Linked DNA regions of Homo sapiens. The protein of the gene in region 2 purifies or fractionates together with the protein of the main gene of each other region. This does not show direct contact. Each region holds a gene or a part of one and is shown on either strand. Other genes may lie near its edges.

What was found.
Region 1: the proteins of SLC25A19 (region 2) and COX15 fractionate together in Homo sapiens (co-fractionation; one large-scale study listed by IntAct). This does not show direct contact.

What each region holds. Positions count from the first base shown.
Region 1 is NC_000010.11:99,718,608-99,722,425, forward strand, and holds part of COX15 (heme A synthase COX15), read right to left. Parts: intron 2,462-3,818; coding exon 2,380-2,461; intron 1-2,379. UniProt on the Homo sapiens protein: Catalyzes the second reaction in the biosynthesis of heme A, a prosthetic group of mitochondrial cytochrome c oxidase (CcO). Heme A is synthesized from heme B by two sequential enzymatic reactions catalyzed by heme O synthase (HOS) and heme A synthase (HAS).
Region 2 is NC_000017.11:75,282,714-75,286,531, reverse strand, and holds part of SLC25A19 (mitochondrial thiamine pyrophosphate carrier), read left to right. Parts: intron 1-72; coding exon 73-228; intron 229-2,938; coding exon 2,939-3,109; intron 3,110-3,818. UniProt on the Homo sapiens protein: Mitochondrial transporter mediating uptake of thiamine diphosphate into mitochondria. It is not clear if the antiporter activity is affected by the membrane potential or by the proton electrochemical gradient.

The DNA.
Region 1 (3,818 bases), on a different chromosome or scaffold from region 2:
GTCAGAGAATAATAGACATATCTGCAACAGGAGTTCTCCAACAGAGAAGATACATCACAATCACCAAGGAAACTTCAAATCTCTGCATCCTTACCTGCTCCCACCCCAAGATTCTGCTTCCTCTAGAGAAGTGGAGTAGAGGCTGTGGTGTGGGGGGAGGGGGAGAGGCTTATTAGCTTAGAAAAATTCCCTTAGTGATTTTGATGCCCTCCTCACCCCGCCACTGAGTGCTACTGATTTATTTTAGAAATGCTCTCCCACAGATGTCTGCATGACTGACTCCCTTATTTCCTCAGCTTCCACTCAGATGTCACCTTACCAAAGAGATTTCGCTTGATGATCCTAGCCCACTTTCTGTCTCCTGACCCTAATTTATTTTTCTTCATGGCACTAAATATCATCTAGCACATTATGTTTCTATTGTGCGTTATCTGTCTTCCCCAAATGCTCAATAAATGTTTGTTGACTGAATACGGAAGTGAGAAAAATCCCAAAACTTATAAACTAAATCCTGGATAAACAAATAAAGAGGGTATTCATGAATTAATGGATGTCTGATCCATTATTTATTATCAAAGAAAATCCAGAAATGTTTGGGTCACACTCGCTTTTTTCTTTCTTTTTTTTTTTGAGACGCAGTCTGGCTCTGTCCCCCAGGCTGGAGTGCAGTGGCATGATCTCGGCTCACTGCAACCTCTGCCTCCAGGGTTCATGCAATTCTTCTGCCTCAGCCTCCCGAGTAGCTGGGACTATAGGTGCGCCCTTTGGTAGAGACGAGGTTTCACCACGTTGACCAGGCTGGTCTCGAACTCCCAACCTCAGGTGATCCGCCTGCCTCGGCCTCCCAAAGTGCTGGGATTACAGGCATAAGCCACCATGCCTGGCCTTTTTTTCTTTTTTTGAGTCAGGGTCTTGCTCTGTCACCCAGGCTGGAGTGCAGCAGCGCAATCTCCGCTCACTGCAGCCTCGACCTCCTGGGCTCAAGCAATCCTCCCGCCTCAGCCCCCTGAGTAGCTGAGACTACAGGTGAATACCACCACACATGGCTAATTTTTGTATTTTTTGTAGAGACGAGGTTTCACCATGTTGCCCAGGCTGGTCTTGAACTCCCTGGCTCAAGCAATCTACCTGCCTCAGCATCCCAAAGTGCTGGAATTACAGGTGTGAGCCACCATGCCCAACCCACTCCATATTTTTTTTAAATGTCCCTTATGAAGTAAAAATTCATGCTCTTATGCCAAAAATAAAAGTGTTGAGTGGCTCATTGGTTTGAATCAATATTATTTTTAGTCCAGAGCAGTACTATCAATAGAACTTTCTGTGAGAGTGGAAGTATTCTATATTTGTGCCAACCAATATACTAGCCCCTAGCCACATGTGCCTGTGGAGCATCTGAAATGTTGCTAGTGTGACTGAAGAACTAAATTTTAAATTTTATTTAACCTTAATTAATTTAAGTTTAAATATCCACATGAGGCTACAGGCTCCTCTACTGGATAGTGCAGTTCTAGAATGAGAGCAGCAGTGGTGGAAGTGTGGGTTAAAGAATGAAAACGGCCAGGCATGGTAGCTCATGCCTGTAATCCCAGCACTTTGGGAGGCTAAGGCGGGTGGATCACCTGAGGTCAGAAGTTCGAGGCCAGCCTGGCCAACATGGTGAAACCCCATCTCTACTAAAAATACAAAAATCAGCTGGGCGTGGTGGTGTGCACCTGTAGTCTTAGCTACTCGGGAGGCTGAGGCACGAGAATCGCTTGGATTTAGGGAGGCAGAGGTTGCAGTGAGCTGAGATCATGCCACTGCACTCCAGCCTGGGCAACAGAGTGAGACTCAGTCTCAAAAAAAAGAATGAAAAAATCCTGTGTTGGTCTCTCTGTGCCAATGAACTCTCCACCTGCAACCATCTCTGAGGGCAAGCCTTTTCTCTGACCCATGTTGATGTAATGTGATGATAACAATGTTTATATATAGTAACAGCTAACACTTATGTAGCCTTTGCTACATGCCAACAACGATGCTACACATTTCACATTTAGCAGTCATACTGTTGTCGTAATCTCCATTTTATAGATAAGGTCTCTAAGGCCCAGAGAGGTTACAGAGCTTGCAAAGGTCATATAGTTCACAGGTAGTGAAGCCAGGATTTGAACCTAGGCCATCTGGATCTAGGTAGATGTTCAATATTTTTGTTCAATTGACAGTAAAGTAGAATTTTTGGAAGAGAGAAAGGAACAGGAAACAGGGTGAAGATGGGGGAATGAGAGAAACAGATGTGAAAAGGAAATATAAAGATGCAGGAGGAAGGGGCAAAGCATTAGGCAAGAGGTCCCAGCTTAGAGTGCAATGCAAACAGGTCATCTTTGATGAGCTGAGTCCTACCTGAGAGGGCCGTAAGGAACACCAGACCTGCTGTTCCATGAGCAAATCGTCTCAACTGTAGGAGTTGGTGGGTTTCAGGCAACTAAATATGAAAAAAAATCATTCAGTTAAACTGTGTTGCAGGAACAATGAGAGGCAGCAAAGATCTCTAAGGCCAAACCCAAGTGACAAATTAAGATCAGATCTTCTCTGACCCCTAGACTAGGTTAAGTACTCCTGGCAGATATTCTGTTCCAACATGTACTGTATTTTATTATAATTATAGATTACTATCTGTTTTCCCTTCTACCCCATAAGTTTTGTGAAGGCAGGAACTGCCATCTTTTTTACTAGAGCAATCTTAGCCTAGTGATTGGCACATAGGTACTCATTACGCATCTGTTCAAAAACTGAATGATTTCCATTATTCAGGAAACAATGCTTCATCACGGTTGAAAGGATGTAGCTTAAGATCAGGACTGGATTTTCATGTGTGTGATATTAGTGTTTAGCAAATATAGTCAGAATCAAAATTGCATAAAGTGCTTAGAGATTCCTCCATTTAGTGTTTTTGATAAAATCAAAATTTGTTTTTATTCTTATTACCAACTTCTAATACTAATAAGTGAATCATCAAATATGAATAAGAACTTTATAAACAGGTGACTATGCCACCCTCAAATGGCTTACACTCTACTATATGAAAAGTTAGGTATCATTACTAACATATTATAGGACAGTATATCAGCACTGTCCAATAGAACTTTCTGTGATGGAAAAGTTCTATCATCTACCTAAGGAGAGCTTGAAACATGTGGCTAGTATGACTGAAAATTAAATAAAAAATTAATTTTATTTAAATATAAAGTTTAAATAAACAAAAAGCTTATGTAAATAAATTTTATTTAATTAAAAAAATTTTTTTTCTCACTTTGTCGCCCAGACTGGAGTGCAGTGGCACAATCTTGGCTCACTGCAACCTCCACCTCCCAGGCTCAAGCGATTCTCCTGCCTCAGCCTCCCAAGTAGCTGGGATTACAGGTGCGCGCCACTATTGCCCAGCTAATTTTTTAACTTTTAGTAGAGATGGGGGTTTCACTATGTTGGCCAGGCTGGTCTCAAACTCCTGACCTCAAATGATCCACCCGCCTCAGCCTCCCAAAGTGCTGGGATTACAGGTGTGAGCCACCGTGCCCAGCCTTAATTAGTTAAAATTTAAATAGCCATATGTAGCTAGTAGCTACTGTGTTGGACAGCATAGCACTATATGGCTCATTGGGTAGCATCTCAAATCCTTTTTGTAATTAGGTGAATCTAAACTAACAGAGAAAAACAATTGATAAAGTCATCAGTAACCTTTAAGAGTACAATTTCAGTAGCAAGAGTGTGTGGGTTTATGTGTAAGTGTGGGTAAATGTGTGAGTGTGTATGTATTGGGTTGGGTGAGGAAGATAATTACA
Region 2 (3,818 bases):
GCCTTTTCTGAAAGTTCCCCTTCACATTCCAGCCCACCCCACTGTCCTGACCTTTTTTATTTTGATTCCTAGCTTCAGCATGAGCGCCTGTCTCGCAGTGACCCCAGCGCAAAGTACCATGGCATCCTCCAGGCCTCTAGGCAGATTCTGCAGGAGGAGGGTCCGACAGCTTTCTGGAAAGGACACGTCCCAGCTCAGATTCTCTCCATAGGCTATGGAGCTGTCCAAGTAGGTGGCAAGGGACCTGGCCAGACCTCTGGGGTCACGTTGCTCAGTGGAGGAGCAGAGGGAGGGTGAGGCAAGCAGGAATGCCGCGCAGGGCAGGACGGAAGAGGCAGGCCCCACGCTTCCCACCTGCCTCACCCGGGAGCCTTCCTGACCAGCAGTACCGTAGGCATTGCCCTCCGCCATGTCCCTGCGTCTATCCTGTGTGACTTAGGTGTTGCATCTTGGAGACCGATTTGATGTCATGCCTTCTGTGAGGCTTGGCGAAGGACAGCACTAATGCATTTCAGTTTTTGAAATACCACCTTCACATATGTGGTTCATCTGAACTTCACCACACCGTCATGAGGAGGGCAGGGTAGCTGTCATGTGGATCTCAGGGAGGAGAAGTCAGCTGTCCGAGGCCACACAGCCTGCACATGGCGGGGCTAGGGTTAGAACTCATGCTTCGTTCAGTGGAGCACTAGTATAGTCATAGTGCACAGCATGTGATTTTATGCAGTAGATGTGTTTAAGAACCAGCCCTGTACAGTGCAAACCATGGGCCAGGCCCCTGTTGGAAGCACTTCACATACACTCTGTCACAGCAGTCCTTAAGGTAGGGGCTGTTGTCCCTCCCATGTCATGCATGAGAAGACTGAGGTGGACAGAGCTTACATAATTAACCCAACCAAAGCCACTGGCTAGAAAATGGCAGAGCCACGACCCCCACCTAGGCAGCTAGTGCCAGAGATGTCCCTTCCTACTCTTCCTGTGACATCACAGTGACCGCCCAAGTCAGGTGCTTACTGGCTGGGCATGCCCTGCGATCCTGTCTCTGCACTTGTCTGCAAACAGATATTGCAGCATGACGAATAAATACAGCAACAGGATAGTCTCAAGAAGCCAGGCGTGGGCTGGACTCAGTGGCTCACACCTGTAATCCCAGCATCTGAGCCCGGGAGGCGGAGGCTGCAGTGAGCCACGATCATGCCACTGCACTTCAGCCTGGGCAACACAGCCAGACCCTGTCTCAAAAAAAGAAAAGAAGCCAGGCCATCTTCAGTTGGCTGAAGGAAGATCTGAGCATAGCCCTGGTATAGTGGCTCACACCTGTAATCCCATCACTTTGGGAGGCTGAGGTGGGAGGATGGCTTGAGCTCAGGAGTTTGAGACCAGCCTGGGCAACATTAGGGAGACCTCCTCTCTACTAAAAATAAAAAATAAATTAGCCAGATATGGTGGTACACACCTGTCGTCCCAGCTATTCCAGAGGCAGGAGAATAATTTGAGCTAGAGAAGTCAAGGCTGCTGTGAACTGTGATCGAGCCACTGCACTCCAGCCTGGGCAACTGAGCACGACCTTGCCTCAAAAAGCAAAACAGGGCCAAGCTCGGTGGCTCATGTGTGTAATCTCAGCCCTTTGGGAGCCCAAGGCGGGCAGATTGCTTGAGCTCAGGAGTTTGAGACCAGCCTTGGCAACATAGTGAAACCCTGGTTCTACAAAAAATACCAAAATTAGCTGGACATGGTGGCATGCGCCTGTAATCCCAGCTACTTGAGGAGCTGAGGTGAGAGGATCACTGGAGCCCAGGAGGTTGAGGCTGCAGTGAGCCGTGTTTGTGCCACTGTACTCCAGCCTGGGTGACAGAGAGACACTCTTGTCCCTAAAAAAAAAAAAAAAAAAAAAAAAAGAAAGATCTGAATGTAAGGGGGTCACCCTGTGGAACATGCTCCCAAAAGAATCTGCCCCAGAAAAGAATGATTCTCGAACAGTGCCGCCACCAGGTGCCGCCGCCAGCTGCACTGAAGGGGTCCCTGCAGGAATCAGAGCATGGCCGTCTTCCCCAGTTCTCAGAAAACTAAGTTAGCCAGTGACATTTTCTGATATACATTGTTCTCATGTATCTTTTTTATTTTTTCTTGAGACAGAGTCTCACTCTGTTGCCCAGGCTGGAGTGCAGTGGCGCAATCTCAGCTCACTGCAACCTCCGCCTCCTGGGTTCAGGCGATTCTTCTGCCTCAGCCTCCCAAGTAGCTGGGGTTACAGGCCCACGCCACCATGCCTGGCTAATTTTTGTATTTTTAGTAGAGACAGGGTTCCACCATATTGGCCAGGCTGGTCTCCAACTCCTGACCTCATGATCTGCCCACCTCGGCCTTCCAAAGTGCTGGGATTACAGGCGTGGGCCACTGCACCCAGTCTTTTTTTTGAGACCGAGTCTTGCTCTGTCGCCCGGGCTGGAGAGCGCAGTGGCATGATCTTGGCTCAGTGCAGCTCTGCCTCCCGGGTTCAAGTGATTCTCCTGCCTCAGCCCCCCAAGTACCTGGGACTACAGGTGCCCGCCACCATGCCTGACTAATTTTTGTATTTTTAGTAAAGACAGGGTTTCACTATGTTGACCCGGCTGGTCTCGAACTTGTGACCTCGTGATCTGCCCGCCTCGGCCCCCCAGAGTGCTGGGATTACAAGTGTGAGCCACTGCACCTGGCCCCCATATATCTTCTTAACCCTTTGAGTGTCTGACTCTACTCAAGTATCAAATGGCATCCGAGTTTTGCGTAGAATGTTGTATTTATCATATGCTGTCACTGCTCAAGAAGAACATTTCCTGACCTTTTCCTCGCCCCTCCACCTGGGCCCCAGCCGGGTCACGGGTGATGTATTTGGGGAGTATTTGGTCCTCACCCTCATCCTTTGGGCTGTCGGTGACTTCTTCACTTACTCTTGCAGTTCTTGTCATTTGAAATGCTGACGGAGCTGGTCCACAGAGGCAGCGTGTATGACGCCCGGGAATTCTCAGTGCACTTTGTATGTGGTGGCCTGGCTGCCTGTATGGCCACCCTCACTGTGCACCCCGTGGATGTTCTGCGCACCCGCTTTGCAGCTCAGGGTGAGCCCAAGGTGAGTGGCCAGGAGCCAGACCGGGGAAGCCCAAATAAGGAAGGTGTTGTCACAGGGGTAGCATTCTTTATTTTTTATTTATTTATTTATTTATTTTTGTTTTGTTCTGTTTTGTTTTGTTTGAGACAGAATCTCGCTCTGTCATGCAGGCTGGAGTGCAGTGGTGCGATCTTGGCTTACTGCAAGCTCCACCTCCCGAGTTCAAGCGATTCTCCTGCCTCAGCCTCCCGAGTAGCTGGGATTACAGGCACCCGCCACCACGCCTGGCTAATTTTTTTTGTATTTTTAGTAGAGACGGGGTTTCACCATGTTAGCCAGGATGGTCTCGATCTCCTGACCTCACGATCCGCCCGCCTCGGCCTCCCAAAGTGCTAGGATTACAGGCATGAGCCACTGCGCCCGGCCTATTTTTTATTTATTTATTTATTTATTTTGAGACAGAGTCTCGCTCTGTTGCCAGGCTGGAGTGCAGTGGTGCGATCTATTTTTTTCTTTTATTTGATAAGCATGTTTTTTTTAAATATATGATTTTTATTTTTATTTTTATTTTTAGTTATTTATTTATTTTTTTTGAGACAGAGTCTCACTCTGTCGCCCGGGCTGGAGTGCAGTGGCACAGTCTCGGCTACTGCAAGCTCCGCCTCCTGGGTTCACGCCATTCTCCCTCCTCAGCCTCCCGAGTAGCTGGGACTACAGGTGCCCGCCACCA